3 linked regions of the Homo sapiens genome follow. The protein of the gene in region 3 binds, or shares a complex with, the protein of the main gene of each other region. Each region holds a gene or a part of one and is shown on either strand. Other genes may lie near its edges.

The links.
Region 1: CHTOP (region 3) and THOC3 share a complex: the UniProt entries of both Homo sapiens proteins name them as parts of the transcription/export (TREX) complex.
Region 2: CHTOP (region 3) and THOC7 share a complex: the UniProt entries of both Homo sapiens proteins name them as parts of the transcription/export (TREX) complex.

The regions. Positions count from the first base shown.
Region 1 is NC_000005.10:175,965,316-175,972,729, forward strand, and holds the start of THOC3 (THO complex subunit 3), read right to left. Parts: upstream 3,001-7,414; 5' UTR 2,894-3,000; coding exon 2,627-2,893; intron 1,953-2,626; coding exon 1,796-1,952; intron 1-1,795. UniProt on the Homo sapiens protein: Component of the THO subcomplex of the TREX complex which is thought to couple mRNA transcription, processing and nuclear export, and which specifically associates with spliced mRNA and not with unspliced pre-mRNA.
Region 2 is NC_000003.12:63,853,806-63,860,805, forward strand, and holds part of THOC7 (THO complex subunit 7), read right to left. Parts: exon of another isoform or gene 6,840-7,000; intron 1-6,839. UniProt on the Homo sapiens protein: Component of the THO subcomplex of the TREX complex which is thought to couple mRNA transcription, processing and nuclear export, and which specifically associates with spliced mRNA and not with unspliced pre-mRNA.
Region 3 is NC_000001.11:153,636,652-153,644,363, forward strand, and holds part of CHTOP (chromatin target of PRMT1 protein), read left to right. Parts: coding exon 1-2; intron 3-1,643; coding exon 1,644-1,797; intron 1,798-5,591; coding exon of another isoform or gene 5,592-5,594; coding exon 5,595-5,778; intron 5,779-6,575; coding exon 6,576-6,713; intron 6,714-7,712. UniProt on the Homo sapiens protein: Plays an important role in the ligand-dependent activation of estrogen receptor target genes. May play a role in the silencing of fetal globin genes.

The DNA of each region.
Region 1 (7,414 bases), on a different chromosome or scaffold from region 3:
CCAGAACTTTCATCTACACATTTCCCCATTTGGTCTTCACAATACTCCTCTAACATACACTTTATTATCTCCATTTATAAAATCTATAAGATTTTATAGATGAAGGAAATAGGAGATAAGACGACAAGCCAAAGTGTCAAAGCTATGAAGTCACAGAGCTATGAAGTGGCGCAATCTCGGCTCACTGCAAGCTCCACCTCCTGGGTTCACGCCATTCTCTCGCCTCAGCCTCCCGAGTAGCTGGGACTACAGGCGCCTGCCACCACACCAGGCTAATTTTTTTGTATTTTTAGTAGAGACGGGGTTTCACCGTGTTAGCCAGGATGGTCTCGATCTCCTGACCTCGTGATCCGCCCGCCTCGGCCTCCCAAAGTGCTGGGATTACAGGCGTGAGCCACCGTGCCCGGCCAAGCCAAGATTTTAAACCCAGATTTGACCCCAAAGCCCCCTTTTCTCTTACACCAGCATTTCTCAACTCCAGCCATTCGCATGCCAACATCACAATTTTTGTCCTATCCATTAAACACTATACTTTTCTTTATTCAAGATTTTTCTTAAAATTGATTCAAAAAAGTTTACTTAAATAAATTTAGCAGCCAGCTGTGGAGGCTCAAGCCTGTAATTCCAGCACTTTGGGAGGCCAAGGTAGGCAGATCACTTGAGTCCAGGAGTTCAAGATCAGCCTGGGCAATATGGCAAAACCCGTCTCTACAAAAAATTAGCCAGGCATGGTGGCATGTGCCTGTAGTCCCAGCTACTCAGGAGGTTGAGGTGAGAGGATGGCTTGAGCCCAGGTGGAGGCTGCAGGGAGCCAATATTGTGCCACTGTACTCCATCCTGGGTAACAGGGCAAGACCCTGTCTCAAAAATAAAAATAAAATAAAATAAATAAAAATAAAATAAATTTAGCTTCAACTGAATAATAAATTCTATGTGCTAGTTCTTCTAGTAGACATTAAGATATTTGCAAAACTGGTTTTTAATGTTCACCCACGCATCACCTGAATCACTCATGGATCAGCAGCTGTATACTTGGGGAAAAACCACACCATTCCGCCTCCAGAGATAAGTCTTGTCAACAAAGTCCAGTGGCCCACACTGAACACATCAATTAAAAATCTCACCAACTTTTTCCATTCTAAAACGCATATTTTCTCACATTTTAGTATCTACACTGTATCTTAAAATGTATCAGAAAGCATTTCAAAATTTTGGGTGTATCACAGTTATTTACCAACTTTCTTTCCTAATGGAACATCTTACGATCAATGAAAACTCAGAGTCCCATACAATATCGGCCTCAATACTTACAACAGAGCCTATAAATGTACTGCACAACTTTCTCCCAGATCACCAAGACCATCCAAGTTTCAACCATTCTAACTCATCAGAATTTTCCAAATTCTCCATGCCTTTGCACATGCCGTTCCCTCCTGGAAATGTCCCATTCCCCACCCACAGCACCCTGACCACTCAACTCCTATGGCTACCCTAAAAGTTTGCTCAAATTTGGTGAGGCCTTCCCTGGCTCCCCTAGGCAGACTTTTGTTTTCATTTCTATTCTGGGTATCCACCTTGCAGACCTCTCCATTATAAAATGAACCATATCTTGCTATGTTATTTGTATATATATGTCTTCTCCCCGCAGGGGAGGTCCTTGGAGCTGGAAACTCTTATTCAGCTCAGGATGTCTCATACACAGCTGAGTGCCAAGCACAGAAAAGATATTCGGAAAATGGTTGTTGAATGAATCCAAACAGCTTATCTTCCTATTGCCCTCTCTCTGAATAGTCACCTTTAGTGTTCACAGTGGCAATGCATTTTGTAGTCCTCACATCCCAGATGCGAATGGTTTTATCTCCGGACGCCGTAACAAATAGGTCAGGATTACTTGGATGCCAACAAAGCTGGTCCACACTATCCCCATGTCCCCGATAATTGTTTTCTTTGACCTGAAAGAACAGAATCCAGATGTGACTTCACATAGATGTAACTGCCTCCGCATGTAACTTTATAAGCTTATTCAAACCAAAGTATGCTGGGACCAGTAAAGATCTGGGTAATTCAGAATCCAGTTCCTCCAAGCCCTTTCTCCCTTCTCTTCTCCGCAGGCCTTCTGAACTGTTTTTCTCAGCTTCCACACCTATGCCCTTACTTTTGTGCCCTCCCTGGCCTTCTCCTCCTTCCTGGTTTTCCACCCTTACTCTACCACCAACGTACCACCAACGTACCACCACCAACGTACCACCACCACCACCACCACCACCACCACAGCCCCTAGCCACTTCTTATCAGCACAGGATTCGACTCCAAACCAGTAAGGCTCCCATCGCAGCCCTGTCCCATCCACCCTCTCCTCACCTTCACCCGCCATCGCCAACCTCCTTACTTCCACACTCTTCACACGCCCCCAGTCTTCCTCTCCTCACCCCTCACGACCCCGTCACCCCCACACTCCACCTTCTCCCTACTCCCTCCTCATCTCCACACTCCCCCTTTCCCCTTCCCTCAAACCCACTCTCCTTTCACCCCCGCGGCTCCGTTCGCCCCCATTCGCTCTCCCACTACCGCACCTCACTTCACCACGGCCCCTCTCCCTAGCCTGAGCCGAGCCCCGGCAGCTCACCAACCGGTCCTTCTCCAGCAAGAAGACGCTGGCCGTCTTGTCGAAGGACCCCGAGGCTAGGCGACGCCCGTCGCAACTCCAGGCCACCGAGTGCACCTTGGCGCTGTGCGCCAGGAACTCGCGCGTCTTGCTGTGGCCCCGGAACAGCTCCTGCATCCCAAGCACGTAGCGCGACGGGCCGCTGCTCACTGAGCACCACGGGGCCATCGAGCCGGGGCCGCTCTGGCCCAACGCCGAGGGCCCCATGGCTGCAGCGGGGACCGCCATGCCGAGCTCCCCAGCTTCCAACTCACAACACTGCAGCAGCCTCCACGGCGCAGTCAGTCCTGGCGCCGCTGCCGCACGCATGCGCCCGGAAGAGCGACGGCCCCTCTGCGCAGGCGCGCTGTACCCCGCCCCGGAAGGGACTACAAATCCCGGTATGCAGCGCGTGCCCGCGTCTGCTTACTTAGTAATATTTGGTTCTTTTAACTCCAAATATGCTTCACACTTAACGATTCCGAGTTTTTTTAGTGTTCTTATTTCTCCCTTACCTATTCTTTGGTAGATATATGTGTATTCCTGTTTAATCGAATAAAAGAACCAACACTAACCTTCTAAACAGTTAACTCATCACCTTTCTTCTGGGGTTGTTCCGTAATCCCTAGTCCCCTCCCTTAAGAGCAGAAAGCTCTGGTCTTTTTGCTGGAGAAGGACCAGCTGGTGAGCTTGTCCCATGAAAAGGGCTAGCGGGTGTGGAGTGAGGGAAGAGGTGTTAAGAAGGGGTCTGGAGGTTTTGTTTTTTTTTTTTAAATAAAAATGGATTTTTTGTTTTTAAAAGGTAATGGCAGAGGCGTGTGAACCAGAGCAACTCTATCTTAAATAGGAACTGGGTAAAATGAGGCTTAAACCTACTGGGCTGCATTCCCAGACTGTTAAGGCATTCTAATCACAGGATGAAATAGGAGGTCAGCACAAAATACAGGTCATAAAGACCTTGATGATAAAACAGGTTGCAGTAAAGGAACCGGCCAAAACCCACCAAAACCAAAATGGCGATGAGAGTGACCTCTGGTCATCCTCACCTCTACACTCCCACCAGTGCCAGGACAGTTTGTAAATGCCATGGCAATGTCAGGAAGTTACCCTATACGGTCTAAAAAAGGGAGGCATGAATAATCCACCACTTGTTTAGCATATCATCAGGAAAAACCATAAAAATGCGCAACCAGCGGCCCTCGGGGCTGCTCTGTCTATGGAGTGGCCATTCTTTTATTCCCTTTACTTTCTTAATAAACTTGCTTTCACTTTGCACTGCGGACTTGCCCTGAATTCTTTCCTGAGTGAGATCCAAGAACCCACTCCTGGGGTCTGGATTGGGACCCTTTTCCTGTAACAGTATTACATGCACATGATTGTAAATATAAAAATAAAAGATATAGAGTGAAAAGTAAATGTCCACCTGCGTATCCACCCCACCTCTCATATCTCCCTTAAACCAGTGGCTTCTTGCTGGAGAAAAAAGGGGTGGTGAGCTGCCAGCGCCAGTCAAGGCCCTGGAGAAGAGCTGAGGGGGGAAGGTTTTGGTGGTGAGTAGTAGTGGTAAATGTGTTTAAAAACCCAATTTTTAAAAGGCAACACGTGCACTTGGTAACAAATGTAAAATGTATAAAAGGGAATAGATTGAAAAGCTTCCCTCCATCCTGTGTCCCCAAACTTCTCTTCTGAAAAAGTTAAATTTCTTGTGTGGCCTTCCAGAGACAGTGTAAGTAAGCACCTGGGCAAGGTAGATAGGTGTGTGCATAACCTCTCCCAACACACTGCCAAAAAGGTAGCATTCCTTACACAACTTGCTTCCTATGGTAAATATGTATAGGAAATCATTTCTTGTCAGAAAATGCAGACGTCTCATTCTTCTCAATGGTGGCAGTCTTTATATGAATATATAATATTCAACTGATCCCTTCATGAATTTGCTTTTAGAACAATATTAGAACAATATTGCAGTGAATATCCCTATACAACCTTCATTGTGCACATCTGCACTTTTTTATTTGGATATATATTGCCAAAACACCTATGAAGAGGTTTAATAATTTATACTTCCACCAGCAACATAAGAAAGTGTCAGAAGGTCCTAGGTACTAAATGAGTACACATATAAAGCATATGGCTCTCAGAAGGACCGTAGGAAATAAGGTCCCTATCTTTCCCCAATCTTTTCCCTACCCCATTGCAACCAGAAATTCTTGGAAACTACAAAGCTTTTCAGACTCCAAGAATACCACTGAAGTCTCTAAAATCTTGGAGTAGGAAACTATTTGGTGTCTAGTTTTCTTCCTTACCCCTCTTTTTCAGGAATCTTCATATATATATATATATTTAGATATTTTTCCTACATTTTCCCTGTATTTTGTATTTTTTTTTTTTTTTTTTTTTTTTTTTTGCTGCATACACTGAGGATTTACAAGTCCCTGCCAAGATACAAAAACTGAAGTAGAAAGAGGTAAAATGTCCTGGTCCAGGTCACATGACTATCATGTGACAGAGCAAAGGTTAGAACTCAGATGTTACTGACTCTAAAATCTACACTCTGATTCTCAGTATCTGAAATCACGTAAATGTGATTCTTTGTATTTCTGCATTCATTTTGTATTTTTGTATGTAATGTATATTTTTTATTTTTTAATTTTTTTTTGAGATGAAGTTTTGCTCCTATTGCCCAGGCTGGAGTGCAGTGCGATCTTGGCTCACTGCAACTTCCGCCTCCCAGGTTCAACCAAGTCTTCTGCCTCAGTCTCCCGAGTAGCTGGGATTACAAGCACCGCCACCATGCCTGGCTAATTTTTTGTATTTTCGGTTGAGATGGGGTTTCGCTATGCTGGCCAGGCTGGTCTCGAACTCCTGATGTCAGGTGATCCACCCGTCTCTGCCTCCCAAAGTGCTGGGATTACAGGCATGAGCCACCGCGCCCGGCCTGTAATGTATGTTTTTTACTTAATTTCCCCTTGTGTTCCTTTTCTATATTCTGTATACATGGATGTTAGAAACTCAGTTGTGATAAGTATATCCGACTGCTCTTGCCTGAGACAGAAACTGGTATAACATTTCAAGTTGGACTAGCACACATCTGGGGGCAATGTTGAGACTGAAGTCAGAGTCTCTCAAAGGGGAGATAAAATTGAGGGGAACAGAGTCATGGGCCATTTTTTAAAACTTTTTATTTGGAAAAATTCAAATTTACAGAAAAGTTGCAAGAATACTAAAAAGCACTGCTATTCCTGTGACACAGATTCACCAAATTGTAGCATTTTGTTCCACTTTTTTTCTTTTTTTAGTTTTATTTTTATTTATTTATTTTTTTGAGACACAGTCTTACTCTGTCACCCAGGCTGGAGTGCAGTGGCGCGATCTTGGCTCACTGCAACCTCCGCTTCCCAGGTTCAAGCGATTCTCATGTCTCAGCCACCTGAGTAGCTGGGATTACAGGCATGCACCCCCACACCCGCTAATTTTTTGTATGTTTTGTAGAAATGGAGTTTCTCCATGTTGGCCAGGCTGGTCTCAAACTCCTGGCCTCACCCGCCTTGGCCTCCCAAAGTGCTGAGATTACAGGCCTGAGTCACTGTGCCCAGCCTCCATTTGCTTTCTCTACATATATCTACGTTACTACTCTTTTGTCTAAACATTTGGCAATTGTGCATTAGTCCGTTCTCACATTGCTATAGGGAACTACCTGAGACTGGGTAATTTATAAAGAAAAGAGGTTTAATTGGGCCAGGCGCGGTGGCTCACACCTGTAATTCCAGCACTTTGGGAGGTCAAGGCGGGTGGATCACGAGGTCAGGAGTTCAAGACCAGCCTGGCCAAGATGATGAAACCTCGTCTCTACTTAAAATATAATAAAATTAGCCAGGCGTGGTGGCGGGCGCCTGTAGTCCCAGCTACTTGGAAGGCTGAGGCAGGAGAATGGCGTGAACCCGGGAGGCGGAGCTTGCAGTGAGCCTAGATTGCACCACTGCACTCCAGCCTGGGCTACAGAGCAAAAAGCTGTCTCAAAAAAAAAAAAAAAAAAAAAAGAGGTTTAATTGGCTCGTGGTTCCATAGGCTGTACAGGAAGCATGGCTGGGCACGTCTCAGGAAACAGAGAGACAGGGAGGTGCCACATACTTTTAAACAGCCAGATGTCATAAGAACTCAGTCACTGTAACGAGAACAGCAAGGGGGAAATTCGCTCCGATGATCCAGTCACCTCTCACCAGGCCCCTCCTCCAACACTGGGGTTTACAATTGGAAATTTTCTCAGGGACACAAATCCAAGACATATCACATTGTAAGTTGCATACATCTTACCCTTTACCCCTAAATATTTCAGTATTTCCTAAGAAATAGGATGTTCTGTTTCCTACCCCCAGTATAGTTATCGATGTTGGTAAATTGAACAGAAACATGGAATTTTATTTAATCTACTGTCTGTATTTCATTTGTGTCAATTTAGCCAGAAATGTTCTTTATAGCCCTTCTTTTCTTTCAGTACATGTTCCAGTCTAGAACCTCATACTATATTTAGTTATTATATGTCCTTAGTCTCCTTGAATCTATAAAGGTTCCCCAGCATTTCTGTGCCTATTATGACATCAACATTTTTGAAGAATGCAGTTGATGGACCGTTTTTACAGTTCCTTCTCTCACCTAGAAATTCTCTCTTAGGAGCTGATCAAAATCAAACTAAGAAATTTTTTACACATGTGAGTCTTGGGGACTTCAGGGTCATTCAAGGCAGAATCAGGCCATAAATAGTAATGCCAG
Region 2 (7,000 bases), on a different chromosome or scaffold from region 3:
GCTGAGGCAGGAGAATGGCGTGAACCCGGGAGGTGGAGCTTGCAGTGAGCCAAGGTCGCGCCACTGCACTCCAGGCTGGGTGACAAAGCGAGACTCCGTCTCAAAAAAAAAAAAAAAAAATTTAATCCACAACTTGTATCATCCTATAAAAGTCAGAGTAAATGTTGAAGATTTATCTATAGATATATCTATGTAGATACATATTAGGCATTTATGCATATCAAGTTTTGCCCAGTTAGGATTCCTTACAAATTTGCTTCTGTCTCAAATTTACTGGGAAGGTCATGGCGTTTCTAGCTGAAATTGTGCACAGAGAGTTGCTGCCTAGAAAACTCTGTGGACAAGAATTATTGAAATAACATGTATAAAGTACAGAGCACAGCTCCAACAGAAACAGAATAAAACAAAAAGGTAAGCTCTCAGTTTGAGAATAGCCTCTGTTCTTTTTAAATTTAAAGATGGACTGCTGCTGATAGTTCCTAACACAAATGCCATGAGCATTATTATTTTTAATGACATCTTATCAATTAGCTCCATAATGAACACACTTAAAATATGTTTTGTTTACTATACATGTTGACTTCACAAATTATCATGCTTGAAACCCTCTGTAAGCAGTTTGAATGCTTATATTAGTAATTCTGCTGGGCTTTGGTCTATCCTGTAAAAACAGTAAAGATGGCTTAGCAGATTTTTTGTTATTTTTTTTATGTTATCAACATCACTCCTTGTCATAATTACTTTCTTTACTATGAGGATGAACATCATCTGGAAAGAGTTTCTAAACCAAAATACTTGACACCTGCTGTGAGGATGGTGGTTTTCCACCTGGCTTTAGGCTTGTAGGACAATGGCTGGATAATACCATCCATCTAGCTCCTGGAAAGACTGTGGAGTGTGAATCTGAGTCAAGAAAAGGAGGGCCGGGCGCGGTGGCTCACGCCTGTAATCCCAGCACTTTGTGAGGCCGAGGCGGGCGGATCACGAGGTCAGGAGATCGAGACCATCCCGGCTAAAACGCTGAAACCCCGTCTCTACTAAAAATACAAAAAATTAGCCGGGCGTAGTGGCGGGCGCCTGTAGTCCCAGCTACTTGGGAGGCTGAGGCAGGAGAATGGCGTGAACCCGGGAGGCGGAGCTTGCAGTGAGCCGAGATCCCGCCACTGCACTCCAGCCTGGGCGACAGAGCGAGACTCCGTCTCAAAAAAAAAAAAAAGAAAGAAAAGGAGGCAGCAATTAACTTCACGTATTAATTAGTGAGTAATATGACCACACATTGTCTAGAGTATACTGTCTATGAGGCAGGGGCATGAGATACATATTTGCTCATCAAAATGCCTCATATCCAATATGCCTAAATGTTAACCACTGAAAACATAAAAAAACAGGATTGGTTTAACAGTAGACTATTATCACAATTCTAGAACTTATGACTTCCTACTGGATTTCGTTATACCATAATTGCACATACAAAATATCTTTCAAAATCAGTTTAAAATCAGTAATGACACATTTATGCTGAAATGTAAATATTTACTTGCAAAATGGGATACATATATGCCAACATATAGCCAGAAGAAATATAAAATTATTCAAGACACCAAATAAGCCTCAAAAAGTCCTTAGATCTTAAAACTCTATGTTTCATAAACATAGAGGCAGGAAGAAATGACTCCTTTACAGTTACTAGAGCAACTCTAGATTTCTAGGCCTCTGGTCAGATGACACAGCCATTTTAGCTGTGCTCTCATTTTAGCATAAAAGGGAGTTTCTCATAAACCCAGACTAACGTTTTCAAAATTCATAATTGTTCTTTCCCTATATTTGCCATTAAAACCTTGATTACAAAACAACTTCAGAGACAGGTCAAGGCTTGACAACCAGAGGCAATAGCATCATTGTTATGTAACTCCTTGCTAAGGCTAAATTGCAGGTCAAATGTGGTTCCCTTTGAGGGAAGGCTGCAATCTCACCTGCCTTTGTGAACTAGTAATCCTGTGATCTACCAGTGAGGATTAGCATTTCCTTTCTAAATGCAGTTTGGCAAAAAATTTGGTAGGTACCAAACTGAAAGCCACAGGAAGGGATAACAATTTCAGACAGGATTATAGTGGGGAAAACAGCTAGCTACTAAGGCATTACAGCAAGATATACCAAAATTAAAGACACATATACCTTTTGACTTATCTTTTAGAAATTATTCCCACAAGTACGCGAATATATCTATGCAAATATCTCCATTGTAACACTGTTTGGAAGAGTAAAAAACTGAAAACAAACTAAATGCCAATAGAGGATCTGTCTAAAAAATTAATAGACTATACACACTGATATAAAAGAATAAGGTAGATTTATATTCAAAAGAGCTCCATGATAAGCTAAAAATTGAAACAACTGAACTCATGGAGGTAGAAAATAGAGATGGTTACGAGAGGCTGGGAAGAGCTGTGGGGTGTGTGGTGGCAGGGGAGGGGCGGGGATGCTTAATTAGTACAAAAACATAGAGTGAATAGGATCTAGTATTTGATAGCACAATAGGATGATTATAGTCAACAATAATTTATTGCACATTTTATACCAACTAAAAGAGCATAACTAGAATGTTTATAACAAATGATAAATGCTTGAAGACAATGGATATCCTATCTACCCTGCTGTGATTATTTTGCATTGTATGCATGTATCAAAATATCTCATGTACCCCATAAATATACGCACCTACTATATCACTTAAAAAAAATTTTATGGGTACACAGAAGTTGAATACAGACCAGTGTGTAAATGACTGTATAAAATTTTCAAGCATATATACCCACTGGTATACTAGCCAGCAGATACGTAACACTTAAATATGCTAAGGACTGCTTTAGATGCTTTTCACATATAAACACACTTAATCTACACAACAGCATTATAGATTTTTTTTTTTTTTAGACAGAGTCTTGCACTGTTGCCCAGGCTGGAGTGCGTGGCGCTATCTCGGCTCACTGCAAGCTCCGCCTCCCAGGTTCATGCCACTCTACTGCCTCAGCCTCCCAAGTAGCTGGGACTACAGGCGCCCGCTACCACGCCCAGCTAATTCTTTTGTATTTTTAGTAGAGACGGGGTTTCACCGTGTTAGCCAGGATGGTCTTGAACGCCTGACCTCGTGACCTACCCGCCTCGGCCTCCCCAAGTGCTGGGATTACAGGCGTGAGCCACCTTGCCCGGCCTCATTATAGATATTCTTATCCCTATTTTACCAATGAAAAAGCATCTTGCCAAAAATTAAATGTCACAGGAAGTAAGGAATAGAAATGGAACTCAAACTCAGGAGTCAGGCTCCAGAGAAGATACTTTTACCTTTTAGAGGCATTAAAAATCATTCTGGGAGAGGAATTATTACGGAAGGTAAAGAGGGGAAGGTTTTCATTTTTCATATTGTGCATTTCTTCTTGAATTTACTGACATGTAGTACTTTTTTTATGAAGTAGTAACAGTGGTTAACTGGGTGGTAAACTTATTTATCATTCTCAGGTACTTCATTTTCTCTGTATTAAAAATTCTACTCCGTTACTGAATAAAGCTATGATATGTTAACAACAACAAAGAAAACTGGCTTGATTTGACCTACTTTAAATGAACAAGAAGAGAGACTAAGGCCATGTAAAAAAAATGTTCATGCAGATTCCTGTAAGATTTATCGTTAGACCACCACAGCTCATGTTATTAAGATGAATCACACATATTAGCCCATTGTGTTACATTCCTTATGGTAAAATAACACCTGGTCCCTCCTTTCAAAAAGCTCAAAGCCATTAAAACAATTTTTAAGGTCAACAATATTAAGGAGACACATAAAAGGTGGGTGGAAGGAACAATAAGATGGTTTGATTCCTCCATGTAGATATTAACCTCTCCTAAGATACTTCTGACTGGTCTACATAAATTGCTGATGCCAAGGTAAATTACGTGCACCAAAATTAAATTTAAAATTTTAAAAGGAAAATAAATGCAAAACATCATGTTGAGGTCCTTTGTCTTTTCTCTCTATTTAAATGTTTAGAGTAGTATAGTGCTAATAAAGTCAAGGTGAAATGTCCATCTTGCTTTGAAAAACCAATTATCTTGGCTAAAGAAACATCATTTCATAGTTGAACTGCAGCAGTTATCCCTGTGTTGGGGCCACAGAAGATGGAAGAAAGTGGGCAAATGCAATGGCACTAATGAAAAAAAAACCCAAAAACAAAAGAACCCTGTGCCCACAAATGTCTAATTAACATTGGATCAGCAATTGAAATAGGAATAACAGCAGCAGCAAACACTTGCACAGCATTTATACCACCCTAGTTGGTGACCACACAACCCATTTGTTTCTTTTCACTCTGAAAAGTGTCCTGGTTTACACAATAAATTAAATGGTCACTCAACTTCAAAGTGCTTTACATATATTATCATGTTTCATCCTTGAAACAACTCTACAAAGTGTGTACTATTATCTTCCTTTCACAGATGAGTTACTACTCACCTCTGCATTCACAGAAAAATATATACAATTACATTATTAGAAAGTCATAATGCAGCTCCATTATTCTGTCATATTATTCGTAGGCATATTAAAAACCATTATTTCACATTGCAACAAGTACATATTCATGCATTACATTTTTCTAAGTTAAAAAAAAAAGCTACCGTCAAAACCAGCAAGCTTTATTAAATAGAATGTAGAGCCACATTCCACCCCAACCCCTTTCTCCATCTCTCATCTGTTGCTCTGGCATATCAATATATCACCTAATGTTCTCTGTAGTGCAAAAAGTGCTTCTGAAATGATTTCTATCAGGGTACTAACAATATTTAGCATCCTTTAAATTAACACATACAAAATACAGTTAACATAGTTTAAATTAACAGTGACAACATCCACACTGTTTTTCAGCTAGCCAGACTGCTAGAGTTGGCAACAAGGGAAGGAGAGAAAATGGCTTTGTCACAAACTACCTGTGTGACTGCAAGTCACTAACTTCCAAAGACCTCTACTTTTTCACTTATAACATGACAGTAGTGGTGAAAATATCCAGTCTAGTAGCTATAGCTACTCTAAAGCAGGGCAGTTCCTCAAACTGAGTGCAGGAAATAAAGGGCTGCTTCTTCAAGAGCTCCCAGTCCAACTGGATACGCAGACCCAGAGGAATGGATTACATGAAGGGACAGTGATACAGGCACATCAAATTTGTAAAAGACATTGGCTCTTATGTAAGCTCCATGGACAGGTACTGGTACTCCTCCAAGAGCTTTCCAGGAGGATGAATGAGATATCAAGAGCATCCACTTCTATCTTCCACACTAACATCGCTCTAATCCAAGCCCACATTTCTCTCATCTGGAATATTTTGCATTGGACTCCCTGTTTCCATTCTTGCCTTCCTAGAATCCATTTTTTATGCAACTCAGAATGATCTAAAAGATGAATTGGATCACTAACTCTCCTGCTTACAATCCTCCTATCATTTCTAAATGCCCACAAAGGACAATTCAGTCTCCTTTCCAAAGCCTGCAAGGCTCCTCCTGAGCTCCCTTTTACCTCCTTTTGCATCGTACTCCTCTTGGCCCACCTGGATGCAGTCCTGTCCCTAGATCCAGCCCAGTGGCTTTCCTTATTTCCTCTAAAGGGTGCAGAGCTTGTTTTCACCTCGGGCCTTTGCACTAGTTGTTGTCTCTATCTGGAATACTTTCCTGGGCTCTTCATGTGGTTGAACCTGTCAGGTATCACTGCCCTCCCCCATTACTCTCTGTCCTCATTCCATCAAGTTCATTCTCAGAACTTAATTACATTCCTTTTCAGAAATTATCTTATTTACTTATTTGATTGCACACTATGGCTTCTTTCCCCAAAGCAGGGGCCAGGGCCCTCCTCTGTCTAGTTCACTGCAAAGTAGCCAGGACCTCGCATTGTGCCTAGAAGGTATGCAATAAATACTTGTTGACGGATCACACATACCACTCATTTCAGCTTGATTTTTTCAAAAGCTCAGCTGACAAAAACCATGTTTATAGAGGATTGTCTGAAGAAGTTGTAGTTTGTCTTTCCTCTATGGTCTAGATATTCAATCAAAAAACCCTGATTTGAATCAAGCCAGATCAGCAGAGCTACCCACTACCCACCTAAACCACATTGTCCATTGATTTTATTTATTTATTTTTAGACAGGGTCTAGCACTGTTGACAGGCTGGAGTGCAGTGGTGCAATCATGGCTCGTTGCAACCTCAAACTCCTGGGCTCAAGTGATCCTCCTGCCTCAGCCTCCTGAGTAGCTGGGACTACCTACAGGTGTGTTCCACTCCACCTGGCTAATTTAAGAAAATTTTTAGTAGAGATGAGTAGCTGAGACTACAGGTGCACACCACCACACACGCCTGGCTAATTTGAAAAATTCTGTAGTATAGATCATGTCTTGCTGTGTTGCTTAGGATGGTCGCAAACTCCTGGGCTCACGTGATCCTCCTGCCTTAGCATCCCAAAGTGCTAAGATTGATTACAGGTGTGAGCTACCACACCCAGCCTCTACTGGCTTTAGAATGTCTTTCTAAATTGTGATTTAGCCTTCTTTTACCTAGCAAGGGATGTGCTACAAAACAGCTCTATGATCTTCAGTGCTGAAAAGAGGTTAAGGATATGACACTGGCTTTCATTTATAAAGACCTCAATGATAAACTTTTCCTCTAGTTCAAATCAGAAAAAAAAAGTGCTTTTCCTGGGCATCTAAGATTGCCTTCTCTCATGAACACTAGATCACAGAGCAGACGAGGTCCTGCCTCTCAGAATGGCCTACTGGAGAAACAGGTCACTTACAGCTTGGTTAATTAATGTACTAGACTTTATCCTCCTGCATTTTGAGGATCACCCCACTTCTGACTTCCCTTTATTTTTCCTAATCTCAATGTTCTTTTTGTCTTGTTTTCTAATCCGTTTAATTTTTATATTTTCTCATTACAGTGAACTGCCTTAAATGTTTTCTAG
Region 3 (7,712 bases):
CGGTGAGGCAGCCAACAGCAACTTCAACTCCTTCCTAAGAAAACATTACTTAACTTGGCCCTGGGGTCCAATGCACAAAGCCAATTTTAAGCTAAATACCAACAGAAGGCTACAGACCTCTGTTCTTAGTTGCATCTCATGTGGTACACAAAACAAATTGGGCGGTTGTTTCAAAACCCCTTATCAGTAGACTTTTATGTTAAGCTGTCTGAAGTATTTATTTGGTGGGATGTATTTTAAAAGACTCCTAACACTCTTCCTTTTCACATTTTTTTACGTTGATACTGGGGTCGTGCAGCACGGTAGCATGGTACCCTGGCTACAGTAGGCTTGCTGCCCAGTCCAAGGCCAGCAGTGTTGTGTCTGGCCTGTAAGAGGCAGGTAGCAAGCCATGAATATGTCCAAAGGCCCTTGAATGTCATTCTTGGGCCTTGTAAGAGGCACTCGCTTTGCTCCATTTCACTTTCTTTCCATTCTGCTTTTAGTTTGGTTTTGTTTTGGATTCTTCTACAGTTAAGTGTTCTTCTCTTCCATTCCATTATACTTCCTTGACAGAAATAATGAGTCTCTTCACAGGCTCATAAATGATCAAACTGATGTAACTTTGAAAAGTAACTACTTGGAGTCAGAAAAAGTGATGATTGGAGACTAAGAAAAGTAAAGATATTCAAAGGCAGTTTCTATCTCTGACAACTTTGTTCATTAAGAGTGCCTTTGTTTAGGCGCGGTGGCTCATGCCTGTAATCCCAGCACTTTGGCAGGCTGAGGCGGGCGGATCACGAGGTCAGGAGTTTGAGATCAGCCTGCCCAACATGGTGAAACCCTGTCTCTACTAAAAATAGAAAAATTAGCTGGGCGTGGTGGCGTGTGCCTATAATCCCAGCTACTCAGGAGGCTGAGGTAGGAGAATCACTTGAACCCGTGAGGCGAAGGTTGCAGTGAGCCAAGATCCTGCCACTGCACTCCAGCCAGGGCAACAGAGGACAGAGTGAGGCTCCGTTTCAAAAAAAAGAATGCCTTTGATCAGTGATTTCATTAAGTTGACTTTCGACCACTGAAATTTACTTAATGTCTATTTTTGCCTCTTCTGAGGCATATGTGCTTCTCTCCTTATCTCTTTGGCTATGATAAGCTAATTATTTATGTTTGCATAATATTTATGTTTGCATGTTAGTGACATATATTTTAAAATGTGATACACTCCTGTAATTTATGAGAGTATGTTCATTGCTGTGAGCTTTGAAGGTGCTCTAATCCTTCCTCATATTTGGCCTTAGAATGCACCTCGGATCCCCCAAGGTTTAGGCTTTCTTCATTTGTCTTTGAAACTATATCTTCTGTCTCTTGTCATATCTGCTTATTGCGTGTTTTTCATACCTTCCACCTCTCTAAAAGCCGTTACCTGAGCCCTCGTTATCACTTTTGGTTGAATGTGCTGCACTTAGCTGCATTTCTAAGTTTCTGATTCTTGCAAGTTTGTGGAAACAGAGGAGTCTTTAACCCACATCAGCCTTGATCTAAGTGTACCACTTTACTTAAAAGTTCGTGGGATCTGGAGCTCCTGGTCTAGCAAGCCATGAAAATGCCAATAAATGTTTGTAATAAAGCTTTTATTTAAACATCCATTTTGTTCGACCTTGAAGCTTTACTAATATGCTGAAGAACAAACAGCCGACGCCAGTGAATATTCGGGCTTCGATGCAGCAACAACAGCAGCTAGCCAGTGCCAGAAACAGAAGACTGGCCCAGCAGATGGAGAATAGACCCTCTGTCCAGGCAGCATTAAAACTTAAGCAGGTGAGAGAATGGGTCTTAATGCTCCAGAAGCAGCTGGTGATCTCTGTGAGGGAGTCCACTGAGGCTGTCAGGACGTGATGGATGATTGCAAAGTGGCTCAGGGCAAAAAGCTGAAACTTCTCTGGAAGAAAGAGAAGTTCAGAGAATTCCAATTTTGGCAGGTACCAATAAGTAACTTTTTACTGTCTTTCTCTTTTAGGGAGTTTGCCATCTATGTGGCCTGTTTCTGTTACCAATGAGTATTAATCTTTTGTTTTCTGATCCTTAACCCTTAACATAGATTAATGGCTTATTCCACAAAGAAACTTTATTTCAGCTTTAGATAATCTCACAGCATCCTTTACTCTCTGTTAAATGATTTACCCAACAGGGAAATAATTTTATTCTTTTTCCCATAGTGCAGGGAGTTTGCATGGCCTTAGTCAAAGGTTTTCTTTTTTTTTTTTTTTTTAGACGGAGTCTTGCTCTGTCGCCCAGGCTGGAGTGCAGTGGCACGATCTCGGCTCACTGCAAGCTCCGCCTCCCGGGTCCATACCATTCTCCTGCCTCAGCCTCCCGAACAGCTGGGACTAAAGGTGCCCGCCACCACACCCAGCTAATTTTTTTGTATATTTAATAGAGACAGGGTTTCACCATACTAGCCAGGATGGTCTCGATCTCCTGACCTCGTGATCCACCCGCCTCGGCCTCCCAAAGTGCTGGGATTACAGGCTTGAGCCACCGCGCCCAGCAGTCAAAGGTTTTCAATGCTAAAATATACAGAGTAGAGTGACCCTCATTTCCACAGCACCTAAAGTTTTACCAGTAAAGTGGAGCAAGAATACTGAGTAATTTGAGTTAGGGGTTCTCTTTTTCAAATTTACAGTGAGAGATAATCCTATTCAGACCTGAAATAAAACCTGCTCTTTATTATTCATAGAATTTATATGCAAGTCCGGACAGTGGCTGTGGAAGGATATGTCCAAGCTGTGGCTGGGCGTCTGGAGGGCAGTGCCATGCAACTGTAAGGGCTTTGGTAGCATTGCATGGCTATGCATAAATTCAGCAGTTAAATATAACACCCTTACACCCCCACCCTGAACCATTGGGCTCACTGACCAAAAATAAACAAGGGTGTCTGCTTCGGCTACCTTAAGCCTTGGAGTGACTGGATTCCTCCCTGACTCAGGAAAGCAGCAAAAGGCACCATTTTCCAAGAGTAAATGGAAGTTGCTGAAGATGAATCTCTGACAGATCATTCCAAAGGACCTTTCAACAAGAAGCTTTAAGTATAGGCTCTGCAGGAAGTAGTCCCTATCCAGAGTAGTACTATTAAATAGAATTTTTTTATGTTTTTGGTTTGGTTTGGTTTGGTTTGTTTTGAGACGGAGTCTTGCTCTGTCACCCAGGCTGTAGTGCAGTGGTGCAATCTCAACTCACTGCAGCCTCCGCCTCCCGGGTTCAAGCGATTCTCCTGTCTCAGCTACAGGCGCCCGCCACCACACCCGGCTAATTTTTGTATTTTTAGTAGAGACGGAGTTTTGTCATGTTGGCCAGACTGGTCTTGAACTCCTGACCTCAAGTGATCTGCCTGCCTCAGTATCCCAAAGTGTTCAGATTACAGGCATGAGCTACCGTGCCCAGCCAGAACTTTCTACAATGATGGAAATGTTCTGTATTTGCTCTCCGGTACAGTAGCCACTAGTCACATGTGGCTATTGAAAACTTTAAATGTGACTAGTGCAATTAAGGAGCTTAATTTTTTTTAATTTAATTTTAGGCCAGGCCTGTAATCCCAGCACTCTGGGAGGCCAAGGCAGGCGGATCACTTGAGGTCAGGAGTTTGAGACTAGCCTGGCCAATGTGGCAAAACCCCATCTCTACTAAAAAAAAAAAAAAGCCGGGCATGGTGGCGCATACCTGTAATCCCAGCTACTCAAGAGGCTAAGGAGAATCTCTTGAACCCAGGAAGTGGAGGTTGCGGTGAGTGGAGTTGGCACCACTGCATTCCAGCTTGGGTGACAGTGAGACTCTGTCTCAAGAAAATAAGTAAAATTTGCTTTTAATTTAGGCTGGGTATGGTGGCTCACACTTGTAATCCCAGCACTTTGGGAGGCCTGGGCAGGTGGATCACCTGAGGTCAGGAGTTCAAGACCAGCCTGGCCAACATGACAAGACCCCGTCTCCACCAAAAATAAGCCAGGCGTGATGACAGCTCCTGTAATCCCAGCTACTCGGGAGGCTGAGGCAGGAGAATTGTTTGAACCTGGGAGACGAAGGTTGCAGTGAGCCAAGATCGTGTCACTGCACTTCAGCCTGGGCAACAGAGCGAGACTGTATCTCAAAATAAAAATAATTGAAATAGCCACATGTAGCTATAGAGGCTGCCTTACACAGCACACCTCTAGAAGGGAAACTAAGTGGTATAGTTGACATCCTTAACTTCCCTGTTAATATTAAAGGCCGGTATTGGTGGCACTTAAGGATTGGAATGGGTAAAGAACTTCCCAGCACTGTACAGTTCTTTTAAAGCACAAAGCTTGGGAGAATTAATATATGCAGGATAACTGAACGCAAGAGACTTGTGGAATGCAGTTCTAACCTGATAATTGTGTGTTAATCGGGAGTAACAGGACAGGCCGTTACGGTTGGTTACACCTACTTATGCTAGATGCATAATGTTTGGAGCCTTCCCCACTGATGAGAAGCAATTTATGATCTTGTGCTAGAAAGTTAATAATGCTTCACAGCATCTTTTTGAGAGGTTGATTAGAAAACACACACATACACGTTGGTAGTCACTTGTGGGTGAAGCCTGAAGGGGCTATACAATTTATTTTCTTTCAGATTGACTGATGGCTTTATGGACAGCCAGGCTTACTAGGAGCTTGGTTGTGTTCAGGGCTATTGCTGTCCCTTTTTCCTTTGAAGGAATTTAATTCTCTGAGATGTAGTCTTAATGGTTTTCTTTTGAGAACAGATTCTTAAAAATACCCTATCTCTGTAGTGTGTCCTTGTTCTTATATATGGCCCTGAGTTTTGTGATCACCTGAATAATTCTAACATACGTTTGGCTGGCTGACTGTGGAGATACATTTGAGTTACATGTTTATTTTTAATTTAAGGTCATCATTGTTTTAAAGGAGCTGTTTGCAAGTGCAGGCATGGAATTAGGGATTTTTAAGAAATGTAAGGAAAGGAGATTTGACTTTCTTGTGTTTATTTACATCTTAAGGTAAAAAGTGGACCGTCTGGAAATAGATTCTCAGAGGAAAAATGGAGCACACGGGCCTTTTTGAGAAATCAATCTTGTTCTTAAGTCACAAGAACTCAAGTGAACTTGTAATTTAAGTTTTGCCCAGAGTGTGATGAACTTCCTATGGTGTTTGAGTAAGCCTTTGAAGACAGTGGTAGTCCATGGGCAGGTATGAATCAAGTCATATAATTGTCAACCTGTAGTTCAAAAGCAGTACAATCCAGGATTGAACTATAGAATGTTCTTACGAAAACTTAAGTTTCAACTGGCAGTGTATGACTTCTGTAGCCAAACTAGTGAGGTAATTTGTGGAGATGCCCATTTCATGGGACCACACTTGAGCTTCTTGGAGTTTCTGCTCTGGATCAAAATTCTGCTGCTTGTATAACATGTTCTGAGGCAAAGGCTTGCTTCTGGTTTGGGATCCTTTTGACACCCACAACAGGTTTATCTCCCTTCACACCAGCATCTCACTTGCTTCTTTTTCTCTGCACTTTGAGTTGCCAAATCCTGTTGGATTGCTTTTTTGATCTCAATCCCCTAACACCTTTTCTTCCAGAAGAGCTTAAAGCAGCGCCTGGGTAAGAGTAACATCCAGGCACGGTTAGGCCGACCCATAGGGGCCCTGGCCAGGGGAGCAATCGGAGGACGAGGCCTACCCATAATCCAGAGAGGCTTGCCCAGAGGAGGACTACGTGGGGGACGTGCCACCAGAACCCTACTTAGGGGCGGGATGTCACTCCGAGGTCAGTGCTGTGTACCCTGATAATTGTCGGGCCCTACTCCCTTCCCTTTTCTCTTGGGCTGCTTATGGACACGTTTGTTTAACATCTTTAAGCCTGAATTTGTATTAATATAATAACTTCTGAAATCACATATTTTTAATAGTGCTGCATGTCTTTTATCAATACCATTCCTTTTCTGATAATGTGCAATGGTGAGAGGCTATGACCTGCGTAACAACAGGTAATTCATGTCATCTCCATTCCATTTTAAAACACCCTGCTGTTGCTTGAATCAAAGCACATTCAAGTTCTAGAAACAAGTCAAACATAAGAAATTTATAGGTCTTTTGGCCTATATCTCTTTGTTCCTGGTGCTAGTAAAACACTGATACAGCTGGAAAAAGAGGACAAGTTGACCCACAGCACTTACCTATATATGTTCATTTGGGGCACTATTACTCTGTTCCCTGTATAGTTCTTGTTCCCTAGAAGAATCTGTTGAGATCAGGAACCATAGCATTTATTTTTAAATTTACCATAATGCTAGGCATCTATCTGATTATTCAGTAGATATTTATTAAATGTATGTACTTACTAATTGAATTAACTCCCAACTTCCAAAAATGGATTTGTGGTCAGACTTGTTGAATTGATTGAATAAAGAGTAGCTTAATCTGTTCACAGTATGCAGCTTGCCCCAGCCAACCTAAAAACTAACTGAATTACCTTCATTTAACCCTCACCGCCTTCCTTTGGTTAGAATCTACTTTGTGTCTCTTGGATTTACCTGCATATACATTGTATGCCTCCTCTCTAAGGTCAAAACCTGCTCCGAGGTGGACGAGCCGTAGCTCCCCGAATGGGCTTAAGAAGAGGTGGTGTTCGAGGTCGTGGAGGTCCTGGGAGAGGGGGCCTAGGGCGTGGAGCTATGGGTCGTGGCGGAATCGGTGGTAGAGGTTAGTCAGCTACCAACTTCAGAGAGTAGCTCCCCCTTACTTTCCTCCCTTAAAAACTCAGAGCCACCTTTCTGCACAGCTTCAAGTCATAGGCAGGCTTCTTTGTTTGTCTTGTTTTGTTATTTGAAACTGGCTTATTTTTCAAATTACCATGCTGGTAGTGCAAAAGTCTCATGATTTTTCCAAGAATCAATCAAGTGCATATTATAGAGCCAGATTATATGCCATCTTCCTCCAAGCTCTTGCAAATTTAAATTGTATAGTTGAAAATACCCCCCAAAATGGTCAGTTTAGGGTTTTGCCTTTCTCTGCCCCTGTCCCACCACCATCACCACCACATACCACCCTGTAGCTCCAAATCCTGGTTTGAGTCACATGAGAATATAGAAGAGAGAGAGAGATACAAAGATGAAGTAGAGTTAAGAGGGTGGTGAGACTTGGAGCTGGGCATTGGCTCTGAAACCAAATAAATTCAATGTCACATTTGGTGCCTGTGGAGAACCAGAGATGACTTTTTTTGCTTAAGGTAGAGAGCAAGATGGAATTATTATCAGTTAACTAACTGGCTCTTATTGATAATCTTGCCTTTGAAATTTATTGATGTTTGTCTTGTGACCTCATGACCCAGATTGGGAAAGAGTTTAATGATGTTGCTGCTGTTAATACTAAATCTCATGGGAGCCTTCTGGTTTAGAGCTTAGTGGAAAACTCCCAACACCTGTCCAGAAAAAAAACACTATTGAAGCCCCTGTGTATATTTGCTTTGGTTCTCTTAAAAGGTGTCTTGGGTCTTCCATAACTTATGACCTTGAAGTTGCCAAGGAATAATAACTGTTAGGAAAGAAAAGTTGATAACCAAGGGCTTGTTTTCTTCTCTCCCATTATATGATACTTACTGAGTGAAGTGCAAGCTAGTTTGGGTTTCAGGATGAAATAACATGTTTCCAAATTATCTTGACTTGGATCCTGAGAGACATCACGAGGGTGGGAGAGACTAAA